Linked DNA regions of Homo sapiens: regions 2, 3, 4 and 5 are each linked to region 1. The links come from fine-mapping of genetic effects on plasma protein levels. A gene starts in region 1. Each other region holds a variant in brackets. All regions are shown on one strand. Distances are from middle to middle. Region 1 holds the start of KIRREL2 (kirre like nephrin family adhesion molecule 2). Region 2 overlaps NPHS1 (NPHS1 adhesion molecule, nephrin). Region 3 overlaps ZNF382 (zinc finger protein 382). Region 4 overlaps NFKBID (NFKB inhibitor delta). Region 5 has its middle 17 kb from the start of SDHAF1.

The links. PIP is the posterior inclusion probability: the model's chance that the variant is causal. Protein levels are from antibody-based Olink assays in UK Biobank. Linkage for the fine-mapping came from a reference panel and not from the study's own genotypes, which makes the PIPs less certain.
Region 2: its variant is fine-mapped to the plasma level of the KIRREL2 protein (UK Biobank, PIP above 0.99).
Region 3: its variant is fine-mapped to the plasma level of the KIRREL2 protein (UK Biobank, PIP above 0.99).
Region 4: its variant is fine-mapped to the plasma level of the KIRREL2 protein (UK Biobank, PIP above 0.99).
Region 5: its variant is fine-mapped to the plasma level of the KIRREL2 protein (UK Biobank, PIP above 0.99).

Annotation. Positions count from the first base shown.
Region 1 is chr19:35,854,500-35,859,499 of GRCh38, forward strand. KIRREL2 (kirre like nephrin family adhesion molecule 2) reads left to right here and starts at 2,412. Exons shown (of 15, transcript NM_199180.4): 1 at 2,412-2,681; 2 at 2,846-2,995; 3 at 3,909-4,058; 4 at 4,205-4,365; 5 at 4,982-5,000. The coding sequence starts at 2,621.
Region 2 is chr19:35,834,028-35,839,027 of GRCh38, forward strand. It overlaps NPHS1 (NPHS1 adhesion molecule, nephrin), which reads right to left. Exons shown (of 29, transcript NM_004646.4): 23 at 1,678-1,734. Among named protein-coding and RNA genes, the nearest start is that of NPHS1, 16 kb to the right of the region's middle. The variant A/G (reference allele first, on the strand shown) is at 3,978.
Region 3 is chr19:36,632,042-36,637,212 of GRCh38, forward strand. It overlaps ZNF382 (zinc finger protein 382), which reads left to right. Exons shown (of 5, transcript NM_032825.5): 5 at 1-2,073. It overlaps ZNF461 (zinc finger protein 461), which reads right to left. Exons shown (of 6, transcript NM_153257.5): 6 at 4,577-5,171. Among named protein-coding and RNA genes, the nearest start is that of ZNF382, 29 kb to the left of the region's middle. The variant T/C (reference allele first, on the strand shown) is at 3,007.
Region 4 is chr19:35,884,360-35,889,530 of GRCh38, forward strand. NFKBID (NFKB inhibitor delta) reads right to left here. Exons shown (of 12, transcript NM_139239.5): 12 at 3,593-4,253. The coding sequence ends at 4,200. Among named protein-coding and RNA genes, the nearest start is that of NFKBID, 14 kb to the right of the region's middle. The variant T/C (reference allele first, on the strand shown) is at 2,714.
Region 5 is chr19:35,975,882-35,981,052 of GRCh38, forward strand. No RefSeq gene overlaps it. Among named protein-coding and RNA genes, the nearest start is that of SDHAF1, 17 kb to the right of the region's middle. RefSeq lists a silencer at 1-73. The variant C/T (reference allele first, on the strand shown) is at 2,714.

The sequences.
Region 1 (5,000 bases):
TTTAGTAAAGACGGGGTTTCTCCATGTTGATCAGGCTGGTCTCGAACTCCTGACCTCAGGTGATCAGCCTGACTCGGCCTCCCAAAGTGCTGGGATTGCAGGCGTGAGTCATTGTGCCCAGCTGATTTATCTTTCTATCTTTCTCCATCTGTTTGAGACTCTCTCGCTCTCTATATTAAGTTGTTAAATCTCAGTCAATCTTTATTTCACTGTGTCTCTCCATCTCTATATGTCTCTGTTATTCTGTTTCTCTGTCTCTGTTCTCACCTCTGTCGCTCCCCTCACCCCACAGTCTGTCTCACACACACCAGGAGCTCCATAAATATTTGTTCTCAGCCACACTCTGACCACGCCTCTTTCTCTTATGTGTCTCTCCATCTCCGAGTGGCTCTGCTCATCACATCCCTGGATTTTATAACCATATGCTGGTGGGCCTGCCCTCCCCGCGTGCACATACACTTGCCTGGGATAAGCTTCTTCTGCCTGCTTATCTCCTGCGGGAATTGGAAATGCTAGTTTTCTCCCTACCTCCCCAAGACCCCCGCCAATATCGTTCCCAGGAACAAGATGAGGCATCTGGCCTCAGCCCCCAGCTTCATCCTCGATGCTGGACTTCCATCTTCCCTCACATGCTTGACTCCTTGCCCTCCTCCCACCTCCCCTCTCCCAACTGCTCTCTACACCCCCTGGGAAATGGGCTGGATGCCGAGCTGGGGGAGTGGCTCTGTCCTGGGGGCCCTCGCCAGATGGTGTCCCTAGGTGCCAGAGCGTGGAGCTGTCCCTTGCTGGGGCCTTTAATAAGCACAAACCTTCCACCCTCCACCTTGGCTGTTTTCCTTCTCTGCATGCTCCTGGGACCTTGGGCTCTCCATCTTTCCATGTCCGTAGCCCCAGAGAGCCAGGAAGGGGAAGCGGCGTCAAGTGCCTGGAAAAACAGCCCCATGACTTGAGTTCCTCCCTAAGACTCAGGAGTTCCAGCCCCATGTCCATCCTATTTCAAAATCCAGGCACTAGATAAGCCACACAGAAGCCGGGAGTGTAGGCCCCCAGATCCCTCCCCTCTCAGACCCTGGGGTCTCAGTCCCTTCTCTCCAAGGACTCGGGAATTTGGGCCTCTGATCCTCCTGGCCACACTACCCACCCCCGCACCTCCCCATACACACACACACACACACACACACACACACACACACACACACACACACACATACACACAGGACTTAGGACAGATGTTCACGGTCTGATTTCCAAATCCTCCTGGGCCTGTGTGGGGGTGGGGAGAGATTGGCAGATAGATCCACCGACTCTTAAGACTTAAGACCAGATATTCTGACCCCTGTCACCCTCTTCCAAGTGCACCATGCACTTGAGTGCACCTTGAGTCTCCAGCCTCTCAAGGAACCGGGAGATCAGGCCATCAGCGTCTCAGCCAGCAAAGGCCTGAACCACCAGTCCCTTATAACCCTGTAAGTCCAACCCCCACTCCCAACCCCACTCCCCCATTTAGGGACACGGAGTCTGAGCCTAAGAACAGTGGAGAATCTGAATGTGGACCCTCCAGTTCTTACAGGTCCAGGAATGTCAGATCAGGGTCCCAGCCCCCCAGCCCTCCTTCAGGCTGCTCGGGGTCCCTCCCACCTGCTCGGCCAGCTGCGCAGCGTGGGAACGCCCCAGCTGGGCTGCATGGAGCCGTCAGGACAAGCTGCGCGGTTCCCAGCCTCCCTGCCTGCCCCGGCCCGGCACCGCCGCCTCCCAGCCGTCGCCGGGCAACCAGGCCGAGGGGCCCGGCCGGCCGAGTGGGGAGAGGGGTTGGGCTGGGACTGCGGGGTCCTGGGAAAGGAGGGGCCGAGGGCCTGGATTCCTGGGTCTTAGGACGTGCTGTAGTTTGCAGCAATAACAAGGGAACAGAGGGATATTTTGAGGAGGGGTTTTGAGGCTGGGGGAGTCGAGGTAGGGGTCCCAACTGTCCCCCAGGTATCGGTGTGCCCTCTTCCCGACACGCAGGCCCGGGGGAGCCCCGGACCCCGCATCCCCCAGGGCGCGGAAACTGGCGAGGCCCCAGGAGCTCCCATTTATAGCTCAGTTTCCACTGAGCGCAGTCCCTCTAGGACCTGGGCTGAGCAAGTTTCTTCCACTCTCTCCCTTCCCTCCTCCTCACCCCTTGCCTGCCCCTCAACCCCGGCAGGGCGCAGGTGTCCAACCCAGCCGGGACCCCCTCCCTCCTCGAACCCAGGTGTTCCGGCTCCCAGACCCCAATTGAGCTGGGGGCGCCCACCCGCCGGGGGATCCCGCCCTGCGTCCCCCATTCATCCGCGTCTCAGCCGCGGGAGTTTCTCAACGGGAAGAGGGCGGAGCTCCCGGGGGGCGGACCCGGGCGGGGCGAGCGGGATCGGGCCCTCTTGGGGTCTCCCAGAGACCCAGGCCGCGGAACTGGCAGGCGTTTCAGAGCGTCAGAGGCTGCGGATGAGCAGACTTGGAGGACTCCAGGCCAGAGACTAGGCTGGGCGAAGAGTCGAGCGTGAAGGGGGCTCCGGGCCAGGGTGACAGGAGGCGTGCTTGAGAGGAAGAAGTTGACGGGAAGGCCAGTGCGACGGCAAATCTCGTGAACCTTGGGGGACGAATGCTCAGGATGCGGGTCCCCGCCCTCCTCGTCCTCCTCTTCTGCTTCAGAGGGAGAGCAGGTACCGCACGAGGGGAGCGGAGGAATATGGGGTGGGGGTGGGGAGTTGCTTGCGGGCTGCCTCTTCACTAGCGAGAAGGGAGCTGGGGGCTGGGACTCCTGGGTCCTGAATGAGGAGGCCCCTGAAGGTGCTAAGCTCAGCCCTGCTGCCCCGAACTCTCCTAGGCCCGTCGCCCCATTTCCTGCAACAGCCAGAGGACCTGGTGGTGCTGCTGGGGGAGGAAGCCCGGCTGCCGTGTGCTCTGGGCGCCTACTGGGGGCTAGTTCAGTGGACTAAGAGTGGGCTGGCCCTAGGGGGCCAAAGGGACCTACCAGGTAAGAGTGTTCTCTCCACGCTGGGACGGGCTGGCTAGGGGGAGAGTTGCTGGGCTCGGCTGTACCTGCAGTTTCTATTTTGACATTTTCAAGTTTGGGAAATTGATGGGCTCGGGTAAACATTTAGGAGTCCTGATTTTTGAGCTGCTTCTTTGGGGGTGACCCACGGAGTTTGGGAATTATTATGTTATTGCAAAATAGTACATAGGCCAGGTGCAGTGGCTCACGCCTGTAATCCCAACGCTTTGGGAGGTTGAGGCCAGAGGATCGCTTGAAACCAGGAGTTTGAGACCAGCCTGGGCAACATAACAAGACCTTATCTCTACACAAATGTATATATATATTTTAAACAAATTAGCCGGGTATGGTGGTGTGCATCTATAGTCCCAGTTACTCAGGAGGCTTAGGTGGTAGGATTGCTTGAGCCTAGGAGTTCAAGGCTGCAGTGAGCCATGATCAAGCCACTGCACTTCAGGCAATGGTGAGACCCTGTCTCAAAAAAAAAAAAAAAAGAGAACATAAATGCAAAAAAGTACAGTAAATATAAATGGAAGATTTACCAAATAAAATAGACACACACAGCCAATACCCAAGTCCATTGCTAGCTCCCCAGAAGACCCCGTGTTCCTTTCCCCTATCATAGCCCCCTCCCCCTCACTCCAGAAGTAGTATCTAACCTAATTTTTATGGCAATCATTTTCTTGCTTTCCTTCCTGACTTTATTACCCCTAAGTTTGCAGTGACTCTGGGTTGGGAGGGAGTTAGAGTCTCTCTGGGCCCAGTACACACTTTTTAATAGTGTCTTACCACCAAATGTGTGGGCCAGTTTTCTGGTGGAGGATGTCTGGGGATGGAGGCCTGAGGCCAGGATTTCAGAACCATGGTGTGCTGACTGCCTTCTCCCTGACTCCAGGGTGGTCCCGGTACTGGATATCAGGGAATGCAGCCAATGGCCAGCATGACCTCCACATTAGGCCCGTGGAGCTAGAGGATGAAGCATCATATGAATGTCAGGCTACACAAGCAGGCCTCCGCTCCAGACCAGCCCAACTGCACGTGCTGGGTAAGGACCTCGCCCACTTGTCCCCTGGGAGCCCAAGAGGGCAGCCCGTACTAGCTGTGAGTAGCAGAGCCCAGGGAGCCCAGGGGCATGGTCAATTGGAGCTGAGAAGATCAGGATCCATCTCTGACCCCAAATCCACCTTGCAGTCCCCCCAGAAGCCCCCCAGGTGCTGGGCGGCCCCTCTGTGTCTCTGGTTGCTGGAGTTCCTGCGAACCTGACATGTCGGAGCCGTGGGGATGCCCGCCCTACCCCTGAATTGCTGTGGTTCCGAGATGGGGTCCTGTTGGATGGAGCCACCTTCCATCAGGTCAGGTCCAAATTCCTGTGCTAGCCTTTGCCCATTGAGGGAAACTTGGGTTACACTCTGACCACAGGCTCATCCAGAAGAGAAGAAGACATGGGAGGGCAGAGGTTCATGGGTTTGGACTCTTGAAATATGATGCAGGGTAAAGATTCTAGGGCCAGACTACCTGGGTTCAAATTATGTCTCAGCCACTTGCTAGTTGATTGATCTTGAGTAAGTTAGTTAACCTCTCTGTGCCTCAGTTGCCTTATCTATACAATCAGGATAATAGTAGCATGCATGTCATAGGGTATTGTGAGAATTAAATAAATAAATACCTATAAATGCCCAGAAGAGTGACCAATACATAGTGAGCACTATATAAGTAAGGCAAGCTTGTCCAACCTGCGGCCCATGGGCTGCATGCAGCCCAGGATGGCTTTGAATGTGGCCCACCACAAATTCATAAACTTTCTTAAAACATTATGAGACTTTTTTGTAATTTTTTAGCTCATCAGCTATCATTAGTGTTAGTATGTGTGGCCTAAGACAATTCTTCTTCCAATGTGGCCCAGGAAAGCCAAAAGATTGGACACCCCTGATGGGTAGATGGCATTATTATTCTTATCCTTCCCTCCAGACCCTGCTGAAGGAAGGGA
Region 2 (5,000 bases), 20 kb before region 1:
ACAGCTGCATTTCTGTCACTTGCAACCTTTTTCTCGGGCTCTGAAGGGGATTTTTTTGCCAAATGGTTGCAATCATCTCCCAGTAGTCACATCCTTGAGTGCGGGGCCTTTCCACACTGACTCTGTGTTGAGCCATGTGACTTGCTTTGGCCAATGAGACACAACTATGACGGAATCAGCTAGTAAATTGCTGCTTTTGACCCCCGTGACCACCTCCATGTGAAAAAGTCAAGAAGAGACACGCGCCCAGTTATCTCCATTGTTCCAACCAAGAGCCAGATGACTATCAGAAGTGTGGGAAGGGGGCAACCCTAGACCACCCAGTCCAGTGGAGCTGCCAGCTGACTGCAGAGATGATTTAAGCCAGCCCAGACCAGCACTGTTCCGCCAGACTCAGAATCATGAGGAAGAATGTTGCTATAAGCACCCATGTTTGGGGTGGTTCATTATACAGCAAAAGCTAACTGATGCAGGCTTCTTACAGGACATGGAGTGAGCTAATTCTTACGGAATTAAACTAAATTTGGAAGAGAAGAAAATTTATCACTCCAGGCAAGAGGAAGATCTAAGAAAAAAAAAATTGGCCAGATGCAGTGGCTCACGCCTGTAATCCCAGCACTTTGGGAGGCTGAGGTGGGTGAATCATGAGGTCAGGAGTTAAAGACCATCCTGGCTAACGCGGTGAAACCTCATCTCTACTAAAAATACAAAAAATTAGCTGGGCGTGTTGGCACGTGCCTGTAGTCCCAGCTACTCGGGAGGCTGAGGCAGGAGAGGAAGCCGGGAGGTGGAGATAGCAGTCAGCCGAGATCGCACCACTGCACTCCAGCCTGGGCAACAAACAGAGCAAGAATCCATCTCAAAAAATAAAAAAATAAAAAAAAAAAATGCCGAGTGCCGTAGCTCATGCCTGTTATCCCAGCACTTTGGGAAGCTGAGGCAGGCAGATCACTTGAGGTCGGGAGTTCGAGACCAGCCTGGCCAACATGGTGAAACCCCGTCCCTACTAAAAAAGTACAACAATTAGCCAGGTGTGGTGGCAGGTGCCTGTAATCCCAGCAACTCGGGAGGCTAAGGCAAAAGAATCGCTTGAACCTGGGAGGTGGAGGTTGCAGTGAGCCAAGATTTTGCCACTTCACTCCAGCCTGGGCAACAGAATGAGACTCTGTCTCAAAAAAAAAAAAAAAAAAAAGAAAGAAAGAAAGAAAAAAGAGGAAGCTCTAAGGAGTCTGCAAGTCTGCAATTCTGCAGGGACAGAACTAAGTCTTTTTTTTTTTTTTTTTTTTTTTTGAGATAGGGTCTCCCTCTGTTGCCAAGGCTGGAGTGCAGTGGCTCAGTCATAGCTCACTGCATCCTCCAACTCCTGGGCTTATGCAATCCTCCCACCTCAGCCTTCTGAGTAGTTGGGACTACAGGCACATGCCACTACACCCAGCTATTTTTTATTTTTGCAAAGATGGAGTCTTGCTATGTTGCCCAAGCTGGTCTCAAACTCCTGGGCTCAAGTGATCACATGCCTTGGCCTCCCAAAGTGTTGGGATTACAGGCGTGAGCGACTGAGCTTGGCCAGAACTAAGTCGTTAAGCAGCTGTGACTACAAGCAGAGGAGGTAGGGTCAGAGACCAGGAGGTTCCATTCTCAGGGGAGCCGGGAGGGATCAGGGGACTGAGGACTTGCCTGAAGGTGGCTCTGTGGGCAGCTGGTCTTCAGGTTCTCCAGAAGGCTGGTGGAGACCTGGGGGGTGGATATACAGATTGTGACTTAACACTAAGAATCTGAGATAAGCTTTAAATATTTCTCAGCCTCTTCTTAAGCCTATTAGATTCATGGGAACTGGTATATGACTGCTTAAGAATATTTCAAAGAGAGCTAGAAATTGCTGATAATAATGACAATACTATTAATAGCAATTCTAATGGTAACGCTAATGCTAAGAATAATTTGTTTTTTGAGACTGAACCTCTCTCTATTGCCCAGGCTGGAGTGCAGTGGCGCAATCTCAGCTCACTGAAACCTCTGCCTCCCGGGTTCAAGCAATTCTCCTGCCTCAGCCTCCCAAGTAGCTGGGACTACAGGCACCTGCCACTATGCCTGGCTAATTTTTTGTATTTTTAGTAGAGATGGGGTTTCACCATGTTGGCCAGGCTAGTCTCGAACTCCTGACCTCGTGATTCGCCCACCTCGGCCTTCCAGAGTGCTGGGATTACAGGCGTGAGCCACTGCGCCTGGCCATTTTTTTTTTTTTAAAGAGACAGGGTCTCACTCTGTCGCTCAGGCTGGAGTGCAGTGGTATGATCATAGCTCACTGCAGCCTCGACCTCCTGGGTTCAAGCTATCCTCCCGCCTCAGACTCCTGATTAGCTGGGACTACAGGCATGCATCACCATGCCTGGCCCAAAAATTAACTGTTGATGAGCACTTTCGGTGTGCAAGGTCCTTTTCACCCGAATTATCAATTTGTTGAGTTAACCAAAAAAGACTTTGGGCTCTCGATCCCTTAATAAAGGTACAAGTTCTAAAGCAAAGGAGGCAAGTGTCATACTTTATGTTTTAGTGTTCAAAGGGAAGACTGGAGTGGGGTGGGGGGAAGAGCAGAGAAGATTGTAGGGGTGAAAAAGTGTCCTTACTTCCATTGAGAAAAAGCCTGCTCTGTCAGGAAGAGGAAAACAGAAAGGAGAAGCTTGCGGCCAGGAGTGGTGGCACACGTCTGTAATCCCAGCACTTTGAGAGACTGAGGCAGGTGGATCACCTGAGGTTAGGACTTTGAGACCAGCCTGGCCAACATGGTGAAACCCTGTCTCTACTAAAAAATACAAAAATTAGCCAGGCGTGGTGGTATGCACCTGTAATCCCAGCTACTTGGAAGGCTAAGGCAGGAGAATTGCTTGAACCTGGGAGGCAGAGGTTGCAGTGAGCCGAGATCATGCCACTGTACTCCAGCCTGAGTGACAGAGCAAGATTCCATTGCAAAAAAAAAAAAAAAGAAAGAAAAGAAAAGAAAAGAAAGAAAGAAAGAAAGAAAGAAAGAAAGAAAGAAAGAAAGAAAAATAAACTGAGCCACAAAGATCTGTGCTATATATTTTTAGAAACTGAGACACTTGCCTATGGTCACACAACTAAGAGGTAGCAGAGAGGGGATTTGAACCCAAGCTTCTCTGGACCAGGCTCTGAAGGATTTACCACTACAATACTGTGCCTATCAGAATTGTAACATATTCATCATATTCAAGGAATTTGTCCTTCTCATCCAACTTGCTGAATTTATTGGAATAAAGTTATCCATAATATTCCCTAATTATCCTCTTAATGTCTGTGGAGTCTGTGGTAACATCCCTTCTTCCATTCCTGTTATTGGTAACTTGTATTTTCTCCCTTTTATTTGTCTTAATCAGATTTATAAATGTTATTGATTTTTTTCAAATAACCAGCTTCTGGTTTCATTGATTTTCTCAATTGTTTTTCTGTTTTCTAATTCATTCATTTCTGCTCTTACCATTATTATTTTCTTCTTTCTGTTTACTTTGGGTTTAATTTGTTCGTCTTTTATTAGCTTCTTTCTTTCTCTCTCTCTCTCTCTCTCTCTTTCTTTCTTTAGATGGAGTTTTGCTCTTGTTGCCCAGGCTGGAGTACAATGGCACCATCTCTGCTCACTGCAACCTCTGCCTCCCAGGTTCAAGTGATTCTCTTGCCTCAGCCTCCCAAGTAACTGGGATTACAGGCATGTGCCACCACACCCGGCTAATTTTGTATTTTCAGTAGAGACAGGGTTTTTCCATGTTGGTCAGGCTGGTCTCAAACTCCCGACCTCAAGTAATACACCCGCCTTGGCCTCTCAAAGTGCTGGGATTACAGGCATGAGCCACAGTTTCTTAAGATGAAAACTTAGAATATGCATTTGAGGTTATTCTCTTAAAAAAAAAAAAAAAAAAAAAACGAAAACTAGTCCAGTCGTGGTGGCTCACACCTGTAATCCCAAC[A/G]CTTTGGGAGACCGAAGCTGGTGGATCACCTGAGGTCAGGAGTTCGAGATCAGCCTGGACAACATGGTGAAACCCTGTCTCTACTAAAAAATACAAAAAATTACAGGTGCATGCCTGTAATCCCAGCTACTTGGGAGGCTGAGGCAGGAAAATTGCTCAAACCCAGGAGGCGGGGGTTGCAGTGAGCCGAGACGGCACCATTGCACTCCACCCTGGGCAACAAGAACAAAACTGCGTCTCAGAACAAAAACAAACAAACAAAAAGTGGCCAAGCGTGGTGGCTCACACCTGTAATCTCAGCATTTTGGGAGGCCAAGGCAGGTGGATCACCTGAGGTCAGGAGTTCAAGACCAGCCTGGCCAACATGGCGAAACCCCGTCTCTACTAAAAATACTAAAATTAGCTGGGCATGGTGGCACTTGCCTGTAATCCCAGCTACTTAGGAGGCTGAGGCAGGAGAATCGCTTGAACCCGGGAGGCGGAGGTTGTAGTGAGCCAAGATCATGCCACTGCACTCCAGCCTGGGTGGCAGAGTGAGACTCCATCTCAAAAATAAAAAATAAGGCCGCGCATGGTGGCTCAGGCCTATGATTCTAGCACTTTGGGAGGCCAAGGTGAGTGGATCACAAGGTCAGGTGTTCGAGACCAGCCTGACCAACATGGTGAAACCCCGTCTCTATTAAGAATACAAAATTAGCTGGGGGTGGTGGCACATGCCTGTAATCCCAGTTACTCAGAAGACTGAGTCAAGAGAATTGCTTGAACCCAGGAGATGAAGGTTGCAGTGAGCCAAGATCACACCATTGCACTCCAGCCTGGGCAACAAGAGTGAAACTCCATCTCAAAAAAATAAAAAAAAATTAAATAATTAAATAAAATAAAAAACTAAAATAAGCACTTAATGCTATAAATTTCCCTCTAAGTACTGCTTTAACTGCAACCTCAAATTTTTATATGTTTTCATTTTCATTTAATTCAAACTATTTTCTAATTTCCCTTGGTCATTAATCACATTCAGATAGT
Region 3 (5,171 bases), 780 kb after region 1:
GGCTCAGAATCATCTAGCTGCACATTCCTCAGTGGTTTTATTCACACACAGACCGCACACTGTCTCTGAACTGAAGCACTAAGACCTGTATCAAACTTGATTTGGGGAGAGCTGACAGCAGAACTTCTCTACATGGGTTTTTTTGTTGTCATTGTTTTGTTTTTTGAGACAGAGTCTTGCTCTGTCACCCAGGCTGGAGTGCAATGGTGCAATCTCAGCCCACTGCAACCTCCGCCTCCCAGGTTCAAGCAAGTCTCCTGCCACAGCCTCCCTAAGTATCTGGGATTACAGGCATGTGCCACCACAACCAGCTAGTTTTTGTGTTTTTAGTAGAGACAGGGTTTCTCCATGTTGGCCAGGCTGGTCTCGAAGTCCTGACCTCAGGCAATCCTCCGCCCACCTCGGTTTCCCAAAGTGCTGGGATTATAGGCATGAGCCACCGTGCCCAGCCACTGCATGGGTATTTATGCTTCTCTGTTCACTGGTTACATAGTCAAGCCAGGCTATCTAACTGGTTATGTAAGTTTAAAAAAGTTAAAAAGCCATCATAAACAAATTGGCTCTGGGAGTCTCCCAGGGAATATCAGACTTTAACTAGTACCTTGTATAGCTCACTGGCCTTATCCCAACCAAGAGTCAGAGCCAGACATCTGGGCATCGTGGAGATAATTTTAGAGCTTTGCAGTCTGACTGTAAATCAGCTCCATCTTATAAACATGGTTCCTATAACTGCTGTGTATTTCCTGATAATGTATGTGAACAAGCATATCTCCTCACCCTCTGTGTCCCCAGTATCAGATAGTGCACAGTACATCTCAAATGTGATCATTTCTTGTCAGCTAATGCTTGAATTTCTCCACTCAGTTTCTGGTCTAGCAATAGAGCCAGGCTTGCCATGTCCTGCTTCACAAGTAATGTGCAACAGCAAAAGCACAGGCTCCAACACTAGTCTACAACATGCACCTGGGATGTTCTAGATATTTATCAGTTTATAATCAGGCTTTTTTTTTTTTTTTGAGACAGTGTCTCGCTCTGTCGCCCAGGCTGGAGGCAGTGGCTCGATCTTGGCTCACTGTAAGCTCCGCCTCCTGGGTTCACACCATTGTCCTGCCTCAGCCTCCTGAGTAGCTGGGACTACAGGCACCTGCCACCATGCCCAGCTAATTTTTTGTATTTTTAGTAGAGACGGGGTTTTACTGTGTTAGCCAGGGTGGTGTCGATCTCCTGACCTCATGATCCGCCCACCTCGACCTCCCAAAGTGCTGGGATTACAGGCGTGAGCCACCGCACCCGGCCTATAATCGGACTTTTCAAAACCCTAGATATGTGACAATACCAAGTGCTGACAAGAATGTGGAACAACTGGAACTCTTTCTTTTTTAACTTTTGTTTTAGATTCAGGAGTACAGGTGTGGATTTGTTACTGGAACTTTCATACATTGCTAATAGGAAAGGCAAAATGGTAAAGCCGGTCTGGAAAACAATATGCCAGTCTCAAAAAGTTACACATCCAATATGACCCAGCAATCCCACTTATAAGTACTTATCCTAGAGAAATGAAAAATTATGTGCACACAGAAACCTGTACATGAGTGTTTGTAAGTATTATTTATAATTAAAAAAAAAACTAGAGACAAGCAAATGTTCTTCAGTGTGTAAATGGATACACTGTGGTACATTCCCAAGATGGAATTCTACTCAACGATAACAATAATGAGCTACTGAAACATGCAGCTACATAGATGAACCTCAAATGCATTACGCTAAAGGAAAGAACCCAGTCCCAAAAAGTTACATACTGTATGATTCCATTTATATGACATGCTGGAAAAGGTGAAAATATAACAACAGAAAACAGATCAAATGTTGCTGAGTGTCTGGGGTGGGGTGGGGTCTGAATACAGAGGGGTTGCACGAGGCAATTCTTTGAGGTGTTGGAATTGTTTTGTATCCTGCTTGTGGTCATAGATAAAAAATCTATGCATGTGTAAAAAATAGAAGTATACATACAAAAAAGTGAATTGTACTGTCTGTAATTTTTTTAAATAAATAAAAATCCCTAGCTCTGCTTCATCAGCAGCAGTACCTCCTGATTTGTGTCTTCAAAGATATCTTTAGACTGGCTTCTGAATTACATATCCAGTAGTAGTCAGCCTACACACACACAGGCCTTGCCACATGGTCTCATCATTGTTCCGCAGGTCAACTCACAACACAAGTAACACATTACAGTTAGCCCGTATTTGTAAACTCCATCCAGATGATCAGCCCCCCATTGGAGTGGCAGGCTTCATGTCTGGGGGTGGCACACCTATGGAAGATGGAACTCAGTGTGTGTGCTCTGTTGGGCGTCTCCATCACATCTAACAGTGGCTGACAAACCAGCCAATACATAGTCATCAGGGCATATGCAATCATTGGGAATAATACTAAGTGGGGCCAATTCTGCTATCCCTTGGTTCTCAGTGGTATTCTTAATTCCAACACAGTGCCATTTAAAGGTCCCTGATTGTATATGTGCAGTGGCACAATCTCGGCTCACTGCAGCCTCCGCCTCCCAGGTTCAACCAATTCGTCAGCCTCAGCCTCCCAAGTAGCTGGGATTACAGGCATGTACCACCATACCCGGCTAATTTTTGTATTTTTAGTAGAAATGGGGTTTCACCATGTTGGCCAGGCTGGTCTTGAACTCCTGACCTCAAGTGATCCCACGCCTCAGCCTGCCAAAGTGCTGGGATTACAGTGTATGTTTTTATTGCTGCATAATGATTGTACATATTTATGGGATATGTGTGATATTTTGATACATGCATACAATATGTAATAAATCAGGGTAATTAGGATATCCACCTCAAACATTTATCATTTCCTTGTGTTAGAAACATTTCAAATATTCTACCTATTTTGAAATATACAATAAATTATTAACTATAGTCATCCTACTATCCTATCAAACACTAGAACTTATTCCTTCTATCTAACCATATATATATTTTTTTGAGACAG[T/C]CTCGCTCTGTTGTCAGACTGGAGTGCAGTGGTGCGATCTTGGCTCACGGCAACATTTGCTTCCTGGGTTTAAGCAATTCTCCTGCTTCAGCCTCCTGAGTAGCTGGGACTACAGGCGTGAGCCACCACGCCCAGCTTATTTTTGTATTTTTGGTAGAGATGGGATTTCACCATGTTGGCCAGGATGGTCTCGACTCTTGACCTCGTCGTGATCCACCCACCTCGGCCTCCCAAAGTGCTGGGATTACAGGCATAAGCCACCGCACTCGGCCCTATCTAAGCATATTTTTATATCCATTAACCAACCTCTCTTCACCACTAGCCACTCACTTCCGAACCTCTGGTAACCATCATTCTACTCTGACCTCCATGAGATCAACTCTTTTAGCTCCCACTTATGCATGAGAACATGCCAAGTTTGTCTTTCTGTTCCTCGCTTATTTCCCTTAACATAATTAACCTCCACTTCCACCCATGTTGCTGCAAATGGTAGGATTTCATTCTGTTTATGGCTGAATAGTATTCCATTGTGTATAAATCCATTATGCATTGATGGAGACTTAGGTTGATTCCATATTTTGGCTGTTGTTAATAGTGCTGCAGTAAACTTGGGTGTGCAGATACCTCTTAGATATACTGATTTCCTTCCTTTTGGATATGTACCCAGTAGTGAGATTTCTGGATTATTTGGTTGATCTATGTTTAGTTTCTTGAGGAAACTCTATAATTTTTTCTATAGTGGTTATACTAATTTACATTCCCACCAGCAGTGTACTAAAGTGTTCCCCTCTCTCTGCCCTCACCAAGATCTCTTATTGTTTGTCTTTTTGATAGTGGTCATTTTTTTATTTTTATTCATTTTTTTGAGACAAAGTCTCGCTCTGTTGCCCAGGCTGGAGTGCAATGGCGTGATCTCGGCTCACTGCAACCTCTGCCTCCTGGGTTCAAGCGATTCTCCTGCCTCAGCCTCCTGAGTAGCTGGGATTACAGGTGCGTGCCACGACGCCAGGCCAATTTTTGTATTTTTAGTAGAGAGGGGTTTCACTATGTTGGCCAGGCTGGTCTCCAACTCCTGACCTCAGGTGATCCACCTGCCCCGGCCTCCCAAAGTGCTGGGATTACAGGCATGGGCCACCACACCCGGCCTTACTTTTTGAGACAGAGTTTCGCCCTTTCACCCAGGCTGGAGTGAAATGGCGCGATCTCGGCTCACTGCAACCTCCGCCCTCTGGGTTCAAGTGATTTTCCTGCGTCAGCCTCCTGAGTAGCTGGGATTATAGGGGCCTGCCACCACACCTGGATAATTTTTGTATTTTTAGTAGAGACGGAGTTTCACCATGTTGGTGAAATTTGCATGAGATTTAGAAGGTGGAAGTGAAGCACTGCCACTATTCTTGGAAGGTTTTCATGGATGAGCAAATGGCTACATGTGGCATGTCCTTCTCATGGCCAGTGGCAAAAGCCAAGTCATAATATGAAAGCACATGTAAAGTTCTGTTGGGGACCAGCCTCAACACCACCTGTAGGGTACCTGAAGTCCGGTGGCGACAAAGGAATGAGAAGAGACAGGTTAAGAGTTCATAAAGGTGGGAGCCAAGGGGCCAGAGCAAATCAAAAGCTGCAAAGGCGCCAAGCTCTGGTCTCCACACTATTTATTGAGTACAATCACTTAGATCTAAGAAGCAGATGTTCAGGGGTGAAACAGTGAAAGGGGGGCAATGGCAGTTTAGGTACATTTTCTTTGTGCTGAAGCAGCATAAACTTAACTACTGATTTATTCTTTTACTTATCAGAGAGCAGCTGTGGGGAGTGGGCCTAACTAGAAGCCAGCATATCTGGCCACATTCCAATGCTTCAAAGGAGTGTCTTTCTCCTTGAGCACAGTGTTTATAGATAAGAGAGCAGGTCACACTCTGGTCATAGGAACGTGATGGCAATTAGGAGGCTTTCCTCCTCAGAGGCCTCTTGTGGCTTTCCACAACTTATTGTCCCATATTTTTATGGCCAGTTTATGCAGGCACTCCACAAGCCCTTTTCCCAACAGTTCTACCAAAAGTAACTTCCACTCACATTCTATTCGCTAAATCCAATAAATTGCATGTTAGAATGCATGTTAACATTATCTATTGGTTGTGTTTTGACAATTTTCTTTTTTTTTTTTCTTT
Region 4 (5,171 bases), 30 kb after region 1:
GGCAGAGAGTAGAGAGCAGAGAAGCAAGCTCTCTCCTGTCTCCTTCTTTTTTTTTTTTTTTTGAGATGGAGTTTCACTCTTGTTGCCCAGGATGGAGTGCAATGGCATGATCTCGGGTCACCGCAATCTCCACCTCCCAGGTTCAAGTGATTCTCCTGCCTCAGCCTCCTGAGTAGCTGGGATTACAGGCATGCACCACCATGCCTGGCTAATATGTATTTTTTAGTAGAGACGGGGTTTCTCCATGTTGGTCAGGCTGGTCTCGAACTCCAGACCTCAGATGATCCACCCGCCTCGGCCTCCCAAAGTGCTGGGATTACAGGCATGAGCCACCACGCCCGGACTCTCCCATCTCTTCTAACAAGGACATTAGTCCCATTCATGAGGGCTCCACCCTCATGACCTAACTACCTCCCAAAGGCCCATCTTCAAATACTACCCCACTGGGGCTTATGGTTTCAACAAATGAATTTTAGAGGGACACAAACATGCACTCCATAACAATACAAATTGAGATATACATCTTATATGTCAACAAAACCTCAGATGCCATCAGTGATAAAAAATAGCATTATTTTAGGTACCACAAAAGGAAAAAAAAGGCAAAATATAAACTATGTCACACAATTGACTATAAGATGATCCCAATTAAGTTCTTCTGTATTTTTTATTTTATTATTATTATTTATTTACTTACTTTAGAGACAGTGTCTTGCTGCCTCCCACGCTGGAGTGCAGTGCTGCAATCATGGTTCACTGCGGCATCAAACTCCTGGCCTCAAGTGATCCTCCTGCCTCAGCCTCCAAAGTAGCTGGGACTACAGGCACCCGCCACCATGCCCAGCTAATTTTTGTATTTTTAGTAGAGACAGGGTTTCACCATGTTGACCAGGCTGGTCTCCAACTCCTGACCTCAAGTAATCCGCCCTCCTTGGCCTCCCAAATTGCTGGGATTACAGGAGTGAGGCACCTCGCCCAGTCCCCAGATAACTCTGTCTCCCAATATTGAGACCCTTGTGTAATGCCTCCCACACTGATCTGGGATCAATGACATGTCAACAAGTATGATACAAGCAGGGACTTGTCTCCTTGGATCTCTCTTTCTTGGAACCACTGAGCCACCACCTGAAGTTAAGAGATCCACCTGCCCTCCTGGACTGCATGGAAAGACTCTTGGGCCACTCCTGGAAGCTCCATTATCTCAGCTGAGCTATCAGGCATGTGAGTGAAGGTGTTGTGGATTTCCAGGCCAGTTGGGCCTCAGGTTGATTGCAGCCACATGAGGAACCAAAGGGAGACAGCAGAACAGCCAGCTGAACCCGGCGTAGATTTCAGTCAGAAACAATTAAGAGGGGCTGGGCGCGGTAGCTCACACCTGTAATCCCAGCACTTTGGTAGGCCGAGGTGGGTGGATCACTTGAGGTCAGGAGTTCGAGACAAGCCTGGCCAACATGCTGGAACCCCAATCTCTACTAAACAAATACAAAAATTAGCTAGACGTGGTGGTGGGTGCCTGTAATCCCAGCTACTTGGGAGGCAGAGGCAGGAGAGTCGCTTGAACCTGGAAGGCGGAGGTTGCAGTGAGCAGAGATCGCGCCACTGCACTCCAATCTGGTGAGACTGAGACTCCTTCTCAAAAAAGAAAAAAGAAAAGAAATAATTAAAAGGGTGTTGGTTTAAGCCTTAAGTTTTGGGGTGGAGACATTGGCTGGAGCCCCGGAATGTGCTAACATGTACATTCGGTCTGTGGTCCATGAAAGGTTCCTAGCTATGGGGGCTGTGATGGGTCCAAGGGCTTTCTGGGATGGGGGCTCTTTGTGTGATTATATTGCAGAGGCCAGAGCAGAGGCTGTGGAGCGGGTATGAGAATGGGGTTTGGGTTTTTTTTTTTTTTTGAGACGGAATTTTGTTTTGTTGCCCAGGGTGGAGAAAAGTGGTGGGATTTTAGGTTAATGGAAGTTCCGCCTCCTGGATTTAAGGAATTTTCCTGCTTTAGCCTCCCAAGTAGGTGGGAAAACAGGTGCCCGCCACCATGCCTAGCTAATTTTTTTTTTTTTTGGTTTGTATTTTTAGTAGAGATAGGGTTTCACCGTGTTAGCCAGGATGGTCTCAATCTCCTGACCGCATGATCCGCCCGCCTCGGCCTCCCAAAATGCTGGGATTACAGGTGTGAGTCACTGCGCCTGGCCAATTTTTTTGTATTTTTAGTAGAGACAAGGTTTCATCATGTTGGCCAGGCTGGTCTCAAACTCCCGACCTCAGGTAGTCCACCCGCCTCCGCCTCCCAAAGTGCAGGGATTATAGGCATAAGCCACTGCGCCCAGCCTTGGGGGTTTTTTTGTATCTTTTTTTGAGACAGAGTCTTGCTCTGTCGCCCAGGTTGGAGTGCAGTGGCGCAATCTCAGCTCACTGCAACCTCTGCCTCCCAGGTTCAAGCGAGTCTCATGCTTCAGCCTTCTGAGTAGCTGGGATTACAGGCGCACGCCACCACGCCTGGCTAATTTTTGTATTTTTAGTAGAGATGGGTTTTTGCCATGTTGGCCAGGCTGGTCTCAAACTCCTGACCTCAGGTGATCTGCTCGCCTCGGCCTCACAAAGTGCTGCAATTTTAAGTGTGAGTCACTGCGCCTGGCTGAGAATGGGGTTTTGTGGAATTCTTAGTTTGGGTTTCTCCAAAAGCAGCTATGGAGGGAAGGATTGGAGGGAAAGTTCA[T/C]TTGGAAGGGATGGAGAACATTGGTAGGGGAGACAGGAAGAGACACAGAGAAGAAAGAGCAGCCAATAAAGGGTATTTTATCAAGCCCAGACCACTGTGGGGAACTGGGGATTCATCTGCTGGGGAACTCTGGAGCCCGCATAGGCCATGCACTTCCAAGTTAGCCCAACAGACAGGTGGGGGACTATCTCCTATCAGTAACTGGCTGAGGGCTGCTGGAGTGGGAAGTGGACACGAACCCCCTGGCTTTCAACACTTGCCATGCTCATACCTGGGGCAGAGCCGCACCAGTGGTTTGAGATTGCCCAAAGGCAAATATTCTGGGGCTGACACCCAGGCTGGTCTCAAACTCCTGGCCTCAAGTGATCCTCACACCTTGGCCTCCTAAAGGCCAGTCCCTCTTGTGTCGCCAGGGTGAGGGTGACAGGATATGGACTTGGCACCCATGGTGGCTGCTACATCCTCCCCCCTCAGGCACATTCATCCCAATATGACCCCTCAGCGGGCATCACAGCCACTCCCCTGCACCAGTGCCCCCAGAGATCAGACAACAGTGGTTCTAGTCCAAATTGAGTTTAAATTTTTTTTTTTTTTTTTTTTTGAGACAGAGTCTCTCTTTGTCACCTAGGCTGGAGTGCAGTGGCACAATCTCGGCTCACTGCAACCTCCGCCTCCTGGGTTCAATCAATTCTTCTGCCTCAGCCTCCCAAGTAGCTGGGACTACAGGCGCATGCCACCATGTCCAGCCAATTGTTTTTGTATTTTTAGTGGAGACAGGGTTTCACCATGTTGGCCAGGCTGGTCTCAAACTCCTCACCTCAAGTGATCCGCCCGCCTCGGCCTCCCAGAGTGTTAGGATTACAGGCATGAGCCACCAAATCTGGCCCAAATTGAGTTTAATAAAGAGCTTGAGTGATGCTCAGATTAGGGAGGGAGTGACCGGGAATGCTGGGGTCTGGAACTGGGGGCCCAGCTGAGCTCTGAATCAGAGAGCAGTGAGACCTAAGGGTCCCTGATCTCAGAGGGTCCCTCCTGTCTCAGGGTGAGGACCTGAAGGGTGTGGGTCCCGGGGAGGGTGAGGAGGCCATTGTAGGAGATTTACTGAGATGGTATCGGGATGCCCCAAGCACCACGTAGGGGGATTACATCTGGGTTTCTGGGAACGAAGAGCTGAGTTAGGGGAGAGAACCCGAAAGATCTCAGTGGGGAAAGGACTAGGGGTGCAGGGTGTTTCACAGAAACAATCAAGGGGCCTCGATTTCACAGAAATCATCAAGAGGGCTCCTTGTGGGTAGAAGAGGGGTATCACAGCACCCCAAATATTGGGGCCTGTTCACCCCTCTGCAGCCATTCTGGGGTTTTAATGTAAAACCCCAATGGCAGGATATTCCACATACATTATCATGGGTTTGCAACATTAGCATACGCTGGCTGTCCCGCAGGACGGTGGGGACTGGAAAATCAGTCCAGGGTCTGGGTTTGAGTCCTAAGAGGACAGGCCTGGCGGCGCCACACGGCTCCTCTTCAACAGCTGCCGGAGCTGTAGACAAGGCAAAGGAGGGAGAGAAGTCTGTCAGGTTGGAAGGAGAGGTGGGGAAGGCACGCCATGCAGAGGGAGGGGCTAGAGAAGAGAGGTTGAGTGGGTCCCTTTGGATTTGAAGATCAGAGGTCCAGAGTCAAGATTTTGGAAGAGCCAGGTGCAGTGGCTCACGCCTGTAATCCCAGCACTTTGTGGGGCTAAGGTGGGCAAATCACCTGAGGTCAGGAGTTCAAGACCAGCCCAGCCAACATGGCGAAACCCCGCCTCTACCAGAGATACAAAAATTAGCCGGGCATGGTGGCACGTGTGCCTTTAGTCCCAGCTTGGGAGGCTGAGGTGGGAGAATCACTTGAACCTGGGAGGTGGAGCTTGCGGTGAGCTAAAATTGCACCACTGCACTCCAGCCTGGGTGACAAAGCAAGACTCCGCCTCCAAAAAAAAAAAAAAGATTTGGGAAGGAGGCCGGGAGTGATGGTTCCTGTGATCCCAACACTTTGGGAGGCCAAGGCGGGAGGATCAATTGAGGCCAGGAGTTTGAGATCAACCTGGACAACATAGTGTGACCCCATCTCTTAAAAAAAAAAAAAAACAAAATTAGCTGGGTGTGGTGGTGACTGCCTGTAGTACCAGCTACTGGAGAGGCTGAGGTGGGAGGATCCCTTGAGCCCAGGAGCTCGAGGCTGCAGTGAGCTATGATCATGCCACTGCACTCCAGCCTAGGCAACAGAGCAAGACGCTGCCTCAAAATAAATAAATAAACAAACAAACAAATAAAAATAAAGATGTGGGAAGAAGGTCAAGGCCTGGGTTCGTACACTGAGAAAGGGTCAGGAAGCAGAACTTCAGTGAAGGGAAAGGGGCTGCTGGCTGGGGGTTCCCACCTGGGGGTGAGGAATGAGAGGGAATTGAAGGGAACAG
Region 5 (5,171 bases), 120 kb after region 1:
CAGCACCCTGGAACCCCTGCCATTACTTAGAAAGTCCAGCATCCTTGGAATGCTTATAGACCAGCATCACCTATGAACCTCATTCATTTATTCATTCATGCATTAGTTCGACAAATATTTATTGAGCACCAACTATGAGCTGAGAACTGTTCTATTTTATACACGTGTGTGTGTGTGTGTGTGTGTGTATGTGTGTGTGTGTGTGTGTATGTATGTATTTGAGACAGTCTCACTCTTGCCCAGGCTAGAATGCAGTGGTGGGACCGCGGCTCACTGTAGCCTCAACCACTTGGACTTAAGCAATCCTCTCACCTCTTGCCCCTGTAGCCTCTCTAGTAGCTGGGACTACAGGTGCAAGTCAATATGTATGTTCATTTTTTGGAAAGACAGGGTCTTACTGTGTTGTCCAGGCTGGCCTCGAACTCCAGGATTCAAGCAATTGGCCCGCCTTGGCCTCCCAAGTTGCTGAGATTAAAGCATCACCTACTGCACCCAGCCTATTCTGCACATAAACTATATCAATTCTAATTGAGGAAAACTATAGTCCCAACCTCCAGAATCCATAATTCTTACCTCTCAAGATTTGTTGAAAAGGGTGGTCAGGATCATGAACAGCAGTCCAAGCATTTCTAGGTTTGTGGACAGACCCCCAGCCCCTCAACTGGCCCCCCAGAACCCCTGCTAAAAGCAGGGGTCCAGGCATCCTTGGTACTGACACTGGGCCCCCAAGCTCTAGCTTGACCTGCCCTCTCCCCGCAGGTGAATGGTGACTGCAAGAATCTGCACTTACAGGCTCCAGGCAACAGTGCACTCATCTTCTGCCAGGGCTGGGACACCATGGCCAGCTGCCCCTTTGGCCTGTGTGGGACCTACACCCCGGGATCCATGCAACACTGATGCTACCAGCAGCAATAGGGGCGGGGTTAGGTGCTGACTACACTGGGGGGTACCTGGATGCCCAGAGTTGAGGCAAGCACCAAGCTGCCTGAGGACATATTGGCTTGGGCCTGTGGCTGCTTGGTGGGCTGTCTGGGTGTCCAAATGCCTCTGGCAAGATGCCATCATGACCACCATCCTGTGCCACCCTGCCAACCACTAGCACCCTGGCCCACTTTGTTCACATCTATGGCATCCTCCTGGATGCCCTGGGGCCCCTCCAGCTGTGTCATGAGTTGCTGGCACCAGGTCCCTATTTCCAACACTGAGTGGTGGAGATGTGTCTGGGTGCTGGACCCTGCCGCATGCTCATCCGGGTTTGTTCATCTGGGGAGCCTGGCTCCACTCCCGACTGGAGTTCAGCTCCTCAGCTGTTGCCTATCCCAGGATGGCAGACCCTCACTGCCCCATTTAATCCCTGAGACCTTGTACTTCCCGTGATGCCGGCCTCACCCCCTCCCCACTCATTGTCCAGACTTGACCTCAACCATTGCCCATCCTAAAGTGTCAGCCCTACTCTGATTAAAGCCAGCCCCCACCTCATATGCTTCCCCAATCTCAGCCCTGATTATGGCCCAGCACTTCAGCCCTTATCTCTTCAGGGACTCAGAACCTGATCACGGCCCAGCCCCGAAGCCGTCACCCATCCCAGAGACCCATCACTGCCTGTGAACCACAGTTAGCCACCTGGGCTTTACTGATCTGAGGTTCCAGCTTCAGTTCTGTCTAAGCTGAGCTCTCCAGCCCCACCCCTGCAGGGCACCAGATGACAGATCCTAGCGCCCCCTGCATGGAGGGTGGGCCCACGGCAGCCACTTGCCCGCCATCTGGTGCTGCTGCCTGCCAAGGTTGGTGGCTTGCAAACCCTGCCACATCCCCTAGGAGGCCCCAGGCCTCTGCACAGCCTCAGGCAACTCCATGACCGCCCCTTTGGGAGCACCACATTTGGGCTCCTGGGTGTCTGCACGGTTTTGGGCTGCCTGTGGGGTGTGCAGCCCTTCGAGGTGGTGCTGGAGAGAGACCTGGGACTGTCCGGCCTCTGCCATGTGCTGCTGCTATGTGTGCATGGCCACTACTTTGGTGTGGACCTCGGTAACCAGGGACAGTCAAGAGAACCCTTGTCCTGTCATTTACCTCATTTTAGCAACTTTGCATCTCTGTTCCGGTGGACAGGATCTCTGTGTATGGCTCTCTGATGCCTTCCTTCCCTTCCCCTTGCCAACACCCTAATTTCCACTCTTCTCCTCCCTTCTCCCATCTGCACTTCTGTATCGCTCTCCTTCCCTTTCCCTTTCCTTATTTCTTTCTTTCTTTCTTTTTTTCTTGATGGAGTGTTACTCTGTTGCCCAGACCGGAGTGCAATGGCACTGCAACCTCCGCCTACTGGGATCAAGCAATTCTCCTGCTTCAGCCTCCTGAGTAGCTGGGATTACAGGTGTGCACCACGACACCCAGCTAAGTTTTATATTTTTAGTAGAGATGGGGTTTCACCACATTGGCCAGGTTGGTCTCAAACTCCTGGCCACAGCTCATCCACTGGCCTCCCAAAGTGCTGGGATTACAGGCATGAGCTGCCGTGCCTGGCCCTCATGGTCCACATTGGACCTTAACCCATCCTAAAGTGCCAGCCCTGCTCTGATTAAAGCCAGTCCCCTGCTGGCCGCACCTCCTGCTCCATGCAGCCCAGTCTCACTGTGTCTCCCCCACTCCCCTCCTCCCTCACTTCACCACGCCAGCACGCCCCACCACTCTCTCCTGCCCCAAGTCTTCATCTCCC[C/T]GTTCTTTCTCCTCCTCTTAGATCTGGAAGTGACCCCTCTCCCCAACAGCTGCCATTGGCTCCTCCCCAAACCCCTTCCCTGCCTGCCCCTCCCTCACCACCAACCCTTCCTCTCAGAATAGCCCCTCGTCCTCTTAGTCTCTCCAGACTCCTCCCTGGCTCTAGATCCCTCCCTTGTCCCTAATGCTAATCCCTGTTTCTCCCCACACCGCCCTGCCCACCCTACTACTCTCTCTCCTCCTCCCTTGGTCTCCACGCCCCTCCCCTGACTTCCTGCCGTGGTGCTGGTCGTACTCCACAATGCCCATCCTGAGTGTTGCCTACAACCCCCTCGCCTCGGCTCTCCCCTCCCCCACAGTCCCGTGTTTCTTCATACCTCACCCCCATGTTCCTTCTCACATGCATCTGATCCCCCTCCACTCTTCCCGCACCAGTCCTGGCACACCGCCTCCGACCTCTGATTCCCCGTGGCCTCCATGGCAACTGCAAAGGTAAGACAGCAGGTGGATGACTTGGCAGCTGCCGAGGCCCGAGCCCTGCGCCCCGCCGCATACTTGCCCAAGGTCAGTCTGTCCGGCAGCCACCGAGGACCCTGGCACAGACACGATGTGGTCCAGTGCCTGTAGCCTCTTGCCTAGCCAGGGACCCACTGGCACCCTGTCACACACACCTGTCACCAGACAGTCCTTCTTCCAGGCCTGCGTGGCCGAAGTGGACCACATCCCTGGAACCACAAAGTGCCCCATGCCTGCCTGTGAGCTGATGGCTGGTACCAGTGTGCTGTCCTGGAGGGCCTGGGCCTCTGCTGTGAGTCTCCACCCAAGAGCGGACAGAGCCAGCATGAGGCAGGGCCTGCAAGAGACCTGGGTCTGGTCTGTAGTGACTCCACAGGTACGGATTGAGGACCTACTAAGTGCTGGGCATAGGCTGGAGATAGAGCACCAACAGGATAGAGTCCTGCACATACCTTTTTTTTTTTTTTTTTTTTTGAGACATTCTTGCTCTGTCACCCAGGCTGGAGTGCAGTGACGCAATCTCGGCTCGCTGCAACCTCCACCTCCTGGGTTCAAGCGATTCTCCAGCCTCAGCCTCCCGAGTAGCTGGGACTACAGGCACTCACCACCACGTCCGGTTAATTTTTGTATTTTTAGTAGAGATGGGGTTTCACCATGGTGGCCAGGCTGGTCTCAAACTCCTGACCTCAGGTGATCTGCCTGCCTCAGCTTCCCAAAGTGCTGGGATTACAGGCGTGAGCCACCGCGCTCAGCTGAGTACTGCACATATTCTTGTGGGGAAGACAGATTTGATTTTCTTTCTTAGCTAACACTTACAGGGCACACAACCTACATCAGGGGCTACCTGAAGACAGCAGTTCTTAAAGCCCCCCAGCAGCATTAGCAACACCCAGAGCTTATTGAAAATGCAAAATCTGGCCAGGTGCAGTGGCTCACACCTGTAATCCCAACACTTTGGGAATTGCTTGAACCCAGGAGTTCAAGACCAGCCTGGGCAACATGGCAAGACCCTGTCTCTGCAAAAAAAGTTAAACAATTAGCCAGGTGTGGTGGCATGTGCCTGTGGTCCCAACCACAGCTCTGGAGGCTGAGTAGGGAGGATCACTGGAGCCCAGGATTTGGAGGCTGCAGTGAGTTATTATGGCAGTACTGCACTCCAGCCTGGGTGACAAAGTGAGACCCTGTCTCAAAAAAAAAAAGGGCCAGGCACAGTGGCTCACACTGTGATCCCAGCACTTTGGGAGGCAAAGGCGGGTGGATCACAGGGGGCCAGGAGTTTGAGACCAGCCTGGACAAAACCCCGTCCCTACTAGACGGGGCAAAAACCCGTCCCTACTAGAAAGACAAAAATTAGCCGGAGGCCGGGCATGGTGGCTCACACTTGTAATCCCAGCACTTTGGGAGGCAGAGGCGGGTGGATCATGAGGTCAGGAGATCGAGACCACGGTGAAACCCCGTCTCTACTAAAAATACAAAAAATTAGCCGGGAGTGGTGGCGGGTGCCTGTAGTTCCAGCTACTTGGGAGGCTGAGGCAGAAGAATGGCATGAACCCAGAGGCGGAGCTTGCAGTGAGCTGAGATTGCACCACTGCACTCCAGTCTGGGTGACAGAGCGAGACTCCATCTCAAAAAAAAAAAAAAAAAAAAAAAAAAAGAACGGCTGACCTTTACTGAGTACTCTCTCAGTTCTAAGCCCTGTTCTCCCTCAATCAATCCTCCCATTTACATTTTATGGATGAAGGAAACCAAGGCATGGATGGTTAAGGAATGTGCCCGATGTCACATGCCTAAAACATGGCATAGCTGGCATCTGAATATTTGTTCGTGGATTTAACAGATTCTCCCCAACTTGGAGTCTCTATATCCACGTCTCCTCCATGTGCCTCAAGGATTCCTGGCCCCACCCTGACTTACCCTTTTTGGGTCACCATCCTCCACTCCCC